3 separate regions of the Homo sapiens genome follow, and regions 1 and 3 are each reported to be linked to region 2. The links are microRNA targets in miRTarBase. Many come from high-throughput screens and were not tested one by one. Region 2 holds a microRNA gene; each other region holds the end of a gene's coding sequence.

What was found. Region 2 holds the annotated microRNA hsa-miR-3184-3p (AAAGUCUCGCUCUCUGCCCCUCA, at 2,621-2,643, shown strand). A microRNA usually pairs through its seed, bases 2 to 8, with sites in the 3' UTR of a target mRNA and lowers its output. Matches are read on the target gene's strand: a 7mer-m8 pairs with bases 2 to 8, a 7mer-A1 pairs with bases 2 to 7 and ends in A, and an 8mer does both.
Region 1: the mRNA of GJD2 is a reported target of hsa-miR-3184-3p. The part of its 3' UTR that is shown has no 7-base or 8-base seed match.
Region 3: miRTarBase lists LHX9 as a target of hsa-miR-3184-3p. Seed matches in the 3' UTR shown: 7mer-A1 at 1,791-1,797 and 8mer at 3,653-3,660.

Annotation. Positions count from the first base shown.
Region 1 is chr15:34,748,475-34,752,822 of GRCh38, reverse strand. It overlaps GJD2 (gap junction protein delta 2), which reads left to right. Exons shown (of 2, transcript NM_020660.3): 2 at 1-1,791. The coding sequence ends at 345. Among named protein-coding and RNA genes, the nearest start is that of GJD2, 4.3 kb to the left of the region's middle.
Region 2 is chr17:30,115,738-30,119,737 of GRCh38, reverse strand. MIR3184 (microRNA 3184) reads left to right here and starts at 2,578; the gene lies at 2,578-2,652. It overlaps NSRP1 (nuclear speckle splicing regulatory protein 1), which reads right to left and starts at 2,922. Exons shown (of 7, transcript NM_032141.4): 1 at 2,875-2,922; 2 at 1,565-1,658. The coding sequence starts at 2,894. It overlaps MIR423 (microRNA 423), which reads right to left and starts at 2,659; the gene lies at 2,566-2,659. RefSeq lists silencers at 2,490-2,559, 2,496-3,097 and enhancers at 2,810-2,909, 2,940-3,039, 3,060-3,179, 2,212-3,411.
Region 3 is chr1:197,928,444-197,932,800 of GRCh38, forward strand. LHX9 (LIM homeobox 9) reads left to right here. Exons shown (of 5, transcript NM_020204.3): 5 at 559-4,357. The coding sequence ends at 816. Among named protein-coding and RNA genes, the nearest start is that of LHX9, 13 kb to the left of the region's middle.

The DNA of each region.
Region 1 (4,348 bases), not on the chromosome of region 2:
GCCCTGGAAATTGGGTTCCTGGTTGGCCAATATTTTCTCTATGGCTTTAGTGTCCCAGGGTTGTATGAGTGTAACCGCTACCCCTGCATCAAGGAGGTGGAATGTTATGTGTCCCGGCCAACTGAGAAGACTGTCTTTCTAGTGTTCATGTTTGCTGTAAGTGGCATCTGTGTTGTGCTCAACCTGGCTGAACTCAACCACCTGGGATGGCGCAAGATCAAGCTGGCTGTGCGAGGGGCTCAGGCCAAGAGAAAGTCAATCTATGAGATTCGTAACAAGGACCTGCCAAGGGTCAGTGTTCCCAATTTTGGCAGGACTCAGTCCAGTGACTCTGCCTATGTGTGAGAGGGCAGGTTTCATGAAGGTCTGGGGGATGGCAAGGAGCCCCAAGGCAGATGACTGCTCAGACGTGGCTGTATCCACCCTCATTTATGTGACCCTCACCATTAAGATGTAGGATAAGACTGGATAAAAGAAGATTTTGCACCAATGGGAAAGGAGGAAAAGTGGACCCATTTTCACATATCACCTAATTGGTTCTACAGAGACGATTGGGTAGAGTGATGAAATGGATCAATTAGACTTCTTTGGTCCCTTTCTGTTTATGGCCTAGCCTGATCCTGATAACACTGAACTTGCACAGCTACCAAGTAGGACTTAGCCCTGCTGAGCTCTTTATTCTGGTGAATGGTGTGAGTTGAGTACTTCATTGATATAAAATTTGTGACCTATCTCAACCCATCCCTTTATCCTGAGCCATGGGACAAACATCCTTGAGGCACTCTTCATGTATCTCCCCCACCAGCATGCCCCTTTCCCTCAATCCAAAATAGCATGCCAGCTTTTTTTTTTTTTTTTTTTTTTTTTCCAGAATCTGGCCTTACATTAGACCTAATATGTTTTATTTGCAAACTTAGAGGGAATTACATGGGGTGCTTATTGGAGAACGGCCATGGCAGAGGTTTTCATTAGAGCCCCATCTGACTGGCCCTTAGTCGTGATGAAAACCTTAGGAATGTCTCAATATTTCCAGTTTTCTAACTCAAACTGCACTGGTGCTGTTTACTAGGGATGGGGGATGGGTGGGAGGGAGGGAATTGCAATATGCAACTACAACACTTTTGTGAGATTGTTGTTGCACAGTTAGGCACACGGTTACGAGCTTCAGGATATTTCTGCCTTCCAGCTTGTGGACTTTGGTTAACATTAAAAAGATTTTTTTTGGCTAATATCAAGAGTGTCTAGCTGAGCCACAGCATTTGTAACTGGTGTATCTCACTCATTTTCTTACATAGTTTTGTTGTGCAACACAGCTGCACGGTCATTTTGCCATGATTTGAATTTACCTGTGTGCTTACACCAGAGACCTTAATCATCCCATGTCAATCCTGATTTATTATTTTTTCAGTTACTCTTTGAAACACACACACATATACAGACACACATACAAAATTACTGGCTTAAAAGACCTGCAACTAAACACTATTGGCTAACGTGTGTTTACGGTGACTTATTTGAGACATATACCAAAGGTTCAAAAACCTATTGCATTGGACTGTCAATATGTTTTCTTCTTTTTGCTCTTATTTATTTAAGTGCCATACTGTACCTTTCATATCCACTGTGTATTTAGTTAAAATATTGGCCAAGAGAAACATCTGGGTAATGTGCTTTTATGAAGCCCTTTGTTCCCTTTGAATTATCATTATCATTTTTGATTTAGATATGGACATGGTGTAACACACAACTAAGGATTTGTTTAAAATAAAGTTCTTGCCTTTTTTTGTAAAATGGGAAGAGTCTGCACTTTTTGATGGGGGGTATATTTATTTAAATGCATGATCAAAAATGTTATAACAGAAAAACATTGGGGGTAGGAAGTAAGTCATGGTTGAATAGTATTTGAGGAATGACCAATAAAATACAATCAGCCACTAACAGATGAAGAGAGACTTTTCATGGATATTTTCTTCCAAATCAATGCTTTATGAATGTTCATAAGGGAGTGGTGAGATATTCAAATCGTATGATTTATTAGCTCCTTTCCATTTCAGCTCAAAACTTTCCTTACTTGTCTATTTCTTATAACACAAATGTCAATACTACATCATATTAGCCCATTCCAGGAGTGGAATTTTTTTTTCTTTCCACCACATTTTTTTTTCCTGCCATGGATTAATCATTACACTTGGCGAGCATGCTGTTCTTTCCATGATCTCTTCGGGGTCTGATGCTTAACACAATGCTAACCCGGTAGTCAAGCAGATCTCTCTAGACCAGCGCTGCCAGTAGAACTTTCTGTAATGATGAGGATTTCTTCTATTCATGCTGCCCAATGTGGCAACAACTAGCCACATGTGACTACTGAGCTCTTAAAACATGGCTAGTGCAAATCAAGAACAGAATTTCTAATTTTATTTAATTAATTTAAATAGCCAAGTACGGTTAGTTGCTACTCTATTACACAGCACAATTCTAGACTTTTAATCAATCATTTCTTAGTGGGTTCTTCAAAGGAGATTGATCCTTTACTTACATGTCATAAGACATTACTTTTTAGCCACAACATTTTACTCTCATTTTTGGTATTTTCTGCCTACATATGGTCCCATTATTTCAGCAGACTAGTGTTCTTTCTCATTTCTTTAGTGCTACTCACCTTCTAATTCCAATGAGCACTTGGCTTGAACATTGCGAAGCAACGTGGGGTTTCCTGGACGATTGATTTTCAAACACGATTGTTGCATCTCAACTATGGCAGCACAGATGCCAACTTTAGAATGAAAATATGCTCATTTCAATCTATAGGTTTCTATCTGCAGTATAAATAAGCAGTTGAAGATGATTATCCTTGAGTAAAGAAACAGATCCTCCTCCGTTTTGTGTTTGGTAAGCTAAAAATGTTTTAAGACGTCTCCCAGAGATGGAGGAAGAGTGTTGCTTGAGAGCTCTTAGCATATGCTTGGGTGTGAAAGAAATAGGAATCTGTGTGGAAAACAAGGTCTGTTGTATTTATGACTTGATGTAGGATTAAAAGAACCGTAGTGTTTCCTGGTAGAAATGCATCCCATATGAGTGGGGTTGATCTATTTCAGTTCTGTGATGTTTCCCAACACCTACACATGGCAAAATTATTAACTCAGTTGTCAGCAATGGAGAAGAAAACACTTTCTTTCAGAGTATAGAGTCTTCCCTCAGAATGACCATTGGTGTCGGTCTTTTGCTTTCTATGTAGTAAAGGAAATACACTGATGATTTTACGGTTCACATAGCTATGTGATAGATGTCACCTTAATTTGTATTTTGTGAGAGAACATCACTGATATAGCCTCTTAAATTTAAGAGACATTTGGTGAATTGCAGGCCCTCTTGGCCTGTGCACAGCTATATGTGAGCGCATGTGTGTGCATGTGTGCATGTATGTGTGTACACTGGTTAAGTAGTGGGTGGCAGTGCCTCAAATTGGTTTAAAAGTTTGGAGAATAGCCTGGAGAAACTGAAGTTGCTTAACCTGAAGAAAGAAAAGCTGAAAGGGCAGAATTTGTAACTGTAAGTGCTTAAATATTTAAAGGGTAAAAAATATGAAGGATAGTAGTTATGCTATCTGTGACCTCTGTGGACAGAGAAAAATGATTGAACTTAAAATCCAGGTGGGAGTGGTTTTAAAAGCACTAGAAAGAACATTGTTACCTTTTCACCTCTCTCTCTTTTTTTTTTTTTTTAAGTCTTTTTCTCTGCAAGGAATACCTGTCCGTCTACCTCCTTTCACTAGATGTATTCCTCTGCACCCATTAAAAATCAGTTTGGCTGTCCCCTCACCAAGGAACCTATTCTAAACCCTCCTCCAGTCTGGCTTAGTGCTCCTGCTCTGAGTCCTCATAAAAGTCACTTTGCTGGTAACTTGCTGTGTGGAGATGAGACACACACACACCATGCTAGATCACGGCATGGTTCCTTAAGGACAGAAACTATGCTTTACCCATTGTAACCACATACAACATTTATTGTCACCGTCTCAGTGTTTCATCTGGGAATGGTCTTATAGACTCAGAATGTATGAAAGCTAAACACATCCTGTGAAGACATTAAGGAAAACCTTTTACAGTACAGTTGAAGAAATCAAAAGATCTAAACTCAAGACAGCGGGTTTCTAAAAAAGTGGTGTAAGCATTCATCTTGGAAGGCTGGAAAACTTTATTTAGATGGAACTTAGAAAATGTTATTTACATTGGTTTTGTTTTCTTTACATTTTATTACGTGTATTAGTTCGCTAAAGCTGGTGCCATAACAGAATACCACAGATTGGCTGGCTTAAACAACAGAAATTTATTTTCTCACTGCTCTGGAG
Region 2 (4,000 bases):
TGAGGTCAGGAGTTCGAGACCAGCCTGATCAACATGGTGAAATCCCACCTCTACTAAAAACACAAGAATTAGCCAGGCGTGGTGGTGTGTTCCTGTAATCCCTGCTACTCAGCAGGCTGAGGCAGGAGAAACGCTTGAACCCAGGAGGCGGAGGTTGCAATGAGCTGAGATCGCACCACTGCACTCCAGCCTGGGCGAAAGAGGGAGACTCCATCTCAAAAAAAAGAGGCTGGGCATGGTGACTCATGCCTGTAATCCCAACACTTTGGGAGGCCAAGGCAAGTGGATCACCTGAGGTTAGGTTCAAGACCAGCCTGGCCAACATGGTGAAACCCCGTCTCTCCTAAAAATATAAAAATTAGCTGGGCGTGGTGGTGGGGCACCTGTAATCCCAGCTACTCAGGAGGCTGAGGCAGGAAAATCTACTAAATACAAAAAATATTAAAAATACTAAAAATACAAAAAAATAAAAAAATAAAAATTAGCCAGGCATGGTGGCAGGCACCTGTAACCCCAGCTACTCAGGAGATTGAAGCAGGAGAATCACTTGAACCTGGGAGGCAGGGGTTGCAGTGAGCCAAGACTGCACCATCCCACTCTAGCCTAGGTAACAAGAGCGAAACTCTGTCTCAAAAAAAAAAAGAAAAAAAAATATTAAAACATGATGGGAGTATTGGAAAAGCACATATTTACTGGGTGCGGTGGCTTACGCCTGTAATCCCAGCACTTTGGGAAGCTGAGGCAGGCAGATCACCTGAGGTCAGGAGTTCAAGACTAGCCCGGCCAACATGGTGAGACCCTGTCTCTACAAAAATACAAAAATTAGCTGGTCATGATGGCAGGTGCCTGTAATCCCAGCTACTCAGGAAGATTAGGCAAGAGAATCGCTTGAACCCAGGAGGCGGAGGTTGCAGTGAGCCGAGATCGCGGCATTGCACTCCAGCCTGGGCAACTGAGCAAGACACTGTTTCAAAAAAAAAAAAAAAAAGAGAAAAGAAAAGCACACATTTGGGATTGTTTCTGATATATAACTGTGGGTTTCACAGAAGTAGTTTTGGCTGCTAAAATAGAAAATGTTGATATTAGATGTTACTGTAGTACTATCAAGAGTAACTATTCACTACCACGATTATAACTGAGCAATTACATTTGGCAGACACTGAATTTAAAAAAAAAGTAGCGTTGTTAAGAACTGTTATATAGTGATCTTAGCTCATGGTTAACAAATTAAAAACTGCTTTGCTAATAAAAATTTGTAGAAAATTGGTGACATCTTAATAACTCATACCTAGGGATCTTTACACCAACAATTTTGTTATGACAATTTCAGTAGTCTGAAAAGACCGTGTATTTGTTTAAAGGTAAAGTTTGCAGCTTTTAGAGGGAAAAAAATCTTTAAAAAATCGGTGGAGCTGCTTTCTTTACACCTTCCTTTTTGACAATTCTGTAAATTATACTCCACTGTACTGACAAATAACAAAGGCAAAGGTATCAGAGTCACAAGTTCAATTTTTAAAAAATTTACATTTCCAACCATGCACGAGTAAAACATAGGTTTCCTTACCTCATCATCATCATCAGAATCATTCCCAAACACTGATGGTTTTTGCAAAACAGGGTGCAACTGCTGTGTTTTCTTTGGCAAAATAAGCCCATACCTGCATATATTTTTTTTGAAATAGAAATTAAACCTTTATGTTTAAATGTTAACAAATACATCTACTACCTCTTCCACATGAAGCTACCAAATCAAAACATGTCATAAGCTTTATGAACACGTAACAGACTGTTTTTGCTTCTCAGTGATCTCAAAATTCTAACATGCCGTAAGATTCTATAATTACTACTCTAAGTGATCATTTGTGGACACGGGCCAAACTCGAATACCATTTTTATCAAAGAAGAGAAGTAAATGAAAAGTTCAGAAATGTTTTAAGATGGCGAAGTGACAGTAACATTTAAAAAAAAAAAAAAAAAACATGTGTAGTGGAAAGTTTAGTTCATGTCCACTAAAGATTTTAAAATGCTTTCAACTATCCTTGTGGTCTAAACAGTCAAGAAAATGGCTAGATTTTTTTTCCTACTGTGTACTTACACAGTTTCTAAGAACTGACTGGATAGTGTAACTCACGAAAATTTTTAAAAGATAACTGAGAAACCCAAGTAGCCATGGGGCAAGTTCGCATTACACTTTATTAAGATCATGTGCTTTGCCTCGGAGCATCTGAGAGAACCATCCCATCAGATCCAACTCCTTTAGTTTCTCACGTTTTGGCCTTTAAGATGCGGAGATCACGGGAGGCCGCATCAAAAGTAAGGATTACACATCAAAGGTAAAACTTTCAAGTACGTACAGTATTTGTCTCTTTTGCGGCAACGTATACCCCAATTTCCTATATGCCTACCCTTTTTCTGTGGCTTCTCAGAACAATATTCCTAAAACGAGAAGGAAGGGCGGGAATCAGGACTTGAGCTTCTGCCAAGGAGAACAAGGCCCTCTAAGGAAGCCAGGAACTGTCTCTCTTCACACTGCCCCTGAGAGCATCCAAGCGGGGAGAAACTCAAGCGCGGGTTAGGAAGCAAGACTGAGGGGCCTCAGACCGAGCTTTTGGAAAATAGAAAAGTCTCGCTCTCTGCCCCTCAGCCTAACTTCCTTTATTTCCTCACAAGTTTCTCCCTCAAACTTCGGGCTTCCATCCGGGAAAATGTACGGGGGAGGGGAATCTATGTTCCTCAGGACTTCTCGTTTTTTCCCGTCTCTACCCTTGACGACACAGTCCCTTCACTTCCAGCGCATTTAAAACTCCTCGGCCAAAGATACAGTCGCCGTAGTTTCTCATCCCCCAGCCTGACCCTAACTCCCGGATCACTCACTGCCTGCCCGGAATCGCCATCTTGCTCCCGTGTCCGCTGAACGTGGCCGACGCCTCCGTGACGCTGACGCCGATGTCGTCACGTAAACTCTCGCGCGGCTTTGGGTGGCCCGGATCCTGCTTGTCGGTTGAATCGCTGGTTTGAGTCACTTCTATGGTACTGGGAATCGGATCCAGTGACCTCTGTTTTGTTTCGGAGCCCACCGGCTGCCTCAAAATCTGTAGGAGAAAGGAATGACAACGTTCTAGGCCAGTTGTTCGCAGTGTGTGGTTCTGGGACCAGCGGCATCAGCAACACCGGAGATACTGTTAAAATGACAAATTCTCGGGCCCTACCCCAAACCTGCAGAATCAGAAACTTTGGAGTGAAGCGAGTTATCTGAATTTTAACCAGCGGGTAATTCTGATAAAGTTTGAAAACCACTGCCATGGCTATCGATATTCCCCCTACCCCCTTCCAAGTGTTCACTTTAACTGGTTCAGGATAATTAGGCGAAAAATGAAAATCTGTGTATTAATAATACCTTACATAGGACCAAAATTATTATTAAAAAAAAAATTTTTTTTTTGAGACGGAGTTTCGCTCTTGTTGCCCAGGCTAGAGTGCAAAGGCGCGAACTCGGTTACCTCAACCTCCGCCTCCCGGGTTCAAGCGATTCTCCTGCCTCAGCCTCCCGAGTAGCTGGGATTACAGGCATGTGCCACCACGCCCGGCTAAGTTTGTATTTTTAGTAGAGACGGGGTTTCTCCATGTTGGTCAGGCTGGTCTCGAACTCCCGACCTCGGGTGATCCGCCCGACTCGGCCTCCCAAATTGCTGGGATTACAGGCATGAGCCACCGCGCCCGGCCCAAGGACCAAAATTATTAATAATACTGTTCACGGGCCATTGGGTATAGGAATCAGGATCATATATGATACTTTTTTTTTTTTTTTTTTTTTTTTGAGACGTAGTCTCGCTCTTGTCGCCCAGGCTGGAGTGCAGTGGCATAATCTTGGCTCACTGCAACCTCCGCCTCCCAGGTTCAGGCGATTCTCCTGCCTCAGCCTCCTGAGTAGCTGAGATTACAGGCGTCCGCCACCATGCCTGGCTAATTTTTGTATTTTTTTAGTAGAGGCGGGGTTTCA
Region 3 (4,357 bases), not on the chromosome of region 2:
AATAGCAGGCATTTTAAATTCTGCTAAACAGTTTCAGGCTGTTCGAGGTCTGTGGCCCTGGGAGTTTTTTCTATGTGAAGAATATATACCGTGTGTTGGGCTCACGAATGGCTTGAAGTCTGTTTCAGTGATGTCCATTTCATATGAGTGATTCTTACTTTGCCATACTTTCAATGGCCCTGCTTCTACCTCTTCTCAAAAGATAACAGTTGAGGAATCACCGTGTATTTCCCCCTTTTTATCACCATGTGTTCATTTCCATGGTATATCCACTTAAGCATCAGTTGTTCCAAGTGGCACTTGTTAATGCTACAGGGTGGAATAAGTGCAGTTGAGAGATAATAAATCTGTAGTGTTACTTGAATAACTCTGTTTTAAAAGAAAAGAAAAAAAAGCCCCTTTCCTCCTAAGAAAGACAAACAATGATATTTAAAAGGAGAAACCTATATCAAAAAAAAAAAAGAAAGAAAGAAAAAGAAAAAAAGAAAAAGTGAGAGAGAAAGAAAAGAAATATAAAAATGAACATCGGTAAAGAAATCAATTGGGATTGGTTTGCAGGTTTGGTTCCAAAACGCACGAGCCAAATTCAGAAGGAACCTTTTGCGGCAGGAGAATGGGGGTGTTGATAAAGCTGACGGCACGTCGCTTCCGGCCCCGCCCTCAGCAGACAGCGGAGCTCTCACTCCACCCGGCACTGCGACCACTTTAACAGACCTGACCAATCCCACTATCACTGTAGTGACATCCGTGACCTCTAACATGGACAGCCACGAATCCGGAAGCCCCTCACAAACTACCTTAACAAACCTTTTCTAACATTGGTTTTTTTTTTTTAGTTTTTAAATTCTTCCTCTTCTTTTTATTATTATTCTAATTATTATTATTTTATTATTTACAAGACTTTTTTTTTCTTCTAACCCACAAGATATTTGGGGAATAAAAATAACAGCTTGGTGTGTAGCATCTGCAGCCACTTGGCAAATGAGTTTACAGTATTGTCTCCTTTAAGTGAATATATTTTGTCTACAAAGTGTATTTGGATTTAAAAAAATTAATTAGGTCTTTCAGTTGGTAAGGAGAGTTTTTGAATAATTCTAATAAGTGCCTCTTAAAATTGTATGTTACTTATTTCCAGAATCTCGAAGAAAAAAGAAAAAAGAGTGGTATTATTATGGGCAAATAATCATATTCCCACTTAAATGATTAGGTTAATAAAGAACCAGATAATTAATTAGTTACTTTTTAAATCTTGCAATTGTATGTGTGATTATGGAGTTTTGAAAACGTTACATTTTTTAAATCTTAAAACTGAAAACTTGTTTTTAGTATTTCTATTTCTTACCTGAACTGTTAATTCAAGTGAGGAATATGATGAAATAAAAGCATTAACTACAGACATTTTAAATAGTAATGATTAATTAGGTGAGAAATCTATTACAGGAATGTGACTTTTCCTTCTCTTAGGGGTGTACAACTCTAAAAACTTTTTACTTGGTTATTTGTTTTTCAACATTTGAAAAATACTTAAGCTCCCTATGTATCCATGAAAATTCCGCATTGATTTTGACATTCCATACTTTTAACCTCCTAAAGCTAAAAACAATAGCTCGGAAACCATTCTTTCTAGTTACTTTTTTTCCCAGGGAAAATGGAAATAAGCAAAATATAATGTTTTAAGAAGTAAAAAAATCAATATAATTTAATTAATAGCTCTATTAATTGGCTTCAGCTGTACCATGATATTGTATCTGGCATTCTATATGAATAATGTTTAAAATACCCAGCCTGGTAGACTTATACCAACAATTGGTTTTGTTTTGTTTTATTTTATTTTGACATAGGTTGACTTATGTATTGAAAATAATTTTTCTGATATTAGAGATTTGAAGTTATTAGTCTTAAAGTAGATAAACTCAGAAGCCTTGTGGATGCTGATCTGAATATATTTCCTAGTTTACAGTAGCATTTTTTTCTTTTAATTTAAGCTAAAATCTTAATGGTCTGGGCAGTGGTGAATGTTCATCTATTACGCTTCTGTTGTAGTTAAATACCAATTAGATTGTGGATTTCCTAAAAAAATAAAAAAGAAGTCAAGATATATGTCTTGCTTTAGTGGATTGTTAAGAATAACTTTGCACATATTTTCCACTTTTTGGACCCCTTAAATCTCCTTTGGTGGTCGAAGTGGCTATTTAATAGATTTTAAAGGTGTCCTTCTGGCTGTATAAATGTGTGGTTACATATTGACAGTTCACTGCCCACATTAAAGTGCATTATTGTAACTTTTGCTCAGGGTCTTTAGAAAATTAGCACAGAAAGTAGCTTATTTTTTAAAAAAAGATGATGGAAGATAAGTTAACACTGTAACAGAAGAAAGGTGTGATTGCCATTATATATTTAGCAAGTATGGTTATCATCTTATATGGAGCTTAAATCTTGACTTTTCATACTTCTATTACATTTTGGGCATTTACCACTAACCAGACCAAACAACCTTGGTAAGGCTGAGATCTTATTAATACACTTTTACAGGTAAAATATTGACACTTATAAATTTTGTTCTTTGACAGAACAATATATGGTACTATATAGATCTACTTTATTAAGTAGACTAATTATAACTCAGTTCTCCTATGTGCCTTATGATATAACTTGGAAGTAAGTTTGTGAAAAATCAGGATATATGTGTTGTTTGTTAAATTAACTGTTTTAAGCCCTTTTAACACCTCACTAGTTTTGTACTGTTTTACCTCTTATTTCTGAAACTCTTTTTATGGTGTATCCTGTTAGAGGGGACAAACATGTCATAGAAAGCAGTTGTGCACTCTTTCAAATATAGTTGATAAATTCAATAATCTTATATATTGAGCTTCGTGTTTATAGTACAGTAAGTGGTCTAGCAAAATTGTCCATGTTTCTTTGTTTATTGATAAATGCATTGTATAGAAACTATTTCCCCTAAATATTTATGGACCAAACAATTGTGATATATCCTATTAAATTTGTGTGAATAAAACATTTTGAATCTAAGGAGTTTTCTTTCCCATCAGTTTTATTTAAGTTTTAACCGTACTAGTGTGTTCCAGCATCTATATGTAAAAGCTTTTCAAATGGTAATACAACATTGTTAGAAATATTTAAACATACAAATAGTTTTTAGACTTCCAAACTTCTGATTCATATGAAATGTTACACATTGTTGCACAGGCAGTGTAATTCAACCTAGAAATACCTTTGAATATATTTGCTTATAACAAAAGTAATGCCCCACTGATTTGACTCAGTCCAATTTTTAGAATAAAAAGGCTAATTAGCATATAAAGTAATTGCATGGAACGAAACCTTAAATATGATTAAGATTTCATGTTAGGTCTATTGAGCACAAATGGATATTTGTAAATCTAAATAGAAATTGCAGACCCCTAAAAGCCAAGTTGCTCTGTAGTTAATAAATTGTCACTATGATTTTTTTCAGGGAGAACAAATCTTGGGGCATTACAGCCAAACATCCCGACGTTTGAAAATTCCCTAAAGTATTAAAAGAAGGGGAAAAGTTTGATCGGAAATCCACTGCAGTGAAGACAAAGACACTATTAGGTTATGATAATCATACATTAAAAAATTTATTAAGCCAAAAAAAAAGAGAGAGAGAGAGACTTAAATGTCATTTACTGAATGTTAACGAAACTTGTGTTCTTTATGGTGTCTAACACAACTGAAGGCCTAAAATTATGTGGTTTAAACAAAATTAGATAAACCATGTACAAAACCAGAGCAACCTGGCAGTAATATGCCCACCCCATATTTGAAAAAAATTATTATTGAAAAAAATTTCACACATTTGTCAAGCACAGTTGTAAAATAAAGTCCAAAACATTCATTTCACCTGCTTGCTAATGTGTATTAGTCCTGTTAATGGCATTTTCCAACTGTAAATTCAAAGAAAAGCTATCACCCATTTAAGAGTATAGGGATCAAACCCCAGTAATTTTAGCATTATTGTTTATCACTTCCTTTTTAAACAGAAATCTCTGCATGCACTTTTACATATGTCACCTCTAGTGTACACCTCTGTATGATGACTTATCTTTGCTGTTTCTTGTATGATAAATAGCTTTCATTAATAAACATTTATTTGATGCAAACATAGTTAACTTTATGTTAAACACATGCTGTTGAAATTAATTTTGAACACTTAAAGAGGCAGCACAGTACATTTACAACTTGTTATACTAATGAAAAAATACAAACAGCATAGTGAGATTAAATTCTGGTAATCTAGGATAAAATTACTTACTTGGTTTTTACCTTTTCATGACTTATTTTCATTTGTTGTATTCAATTGCCACATGTATTA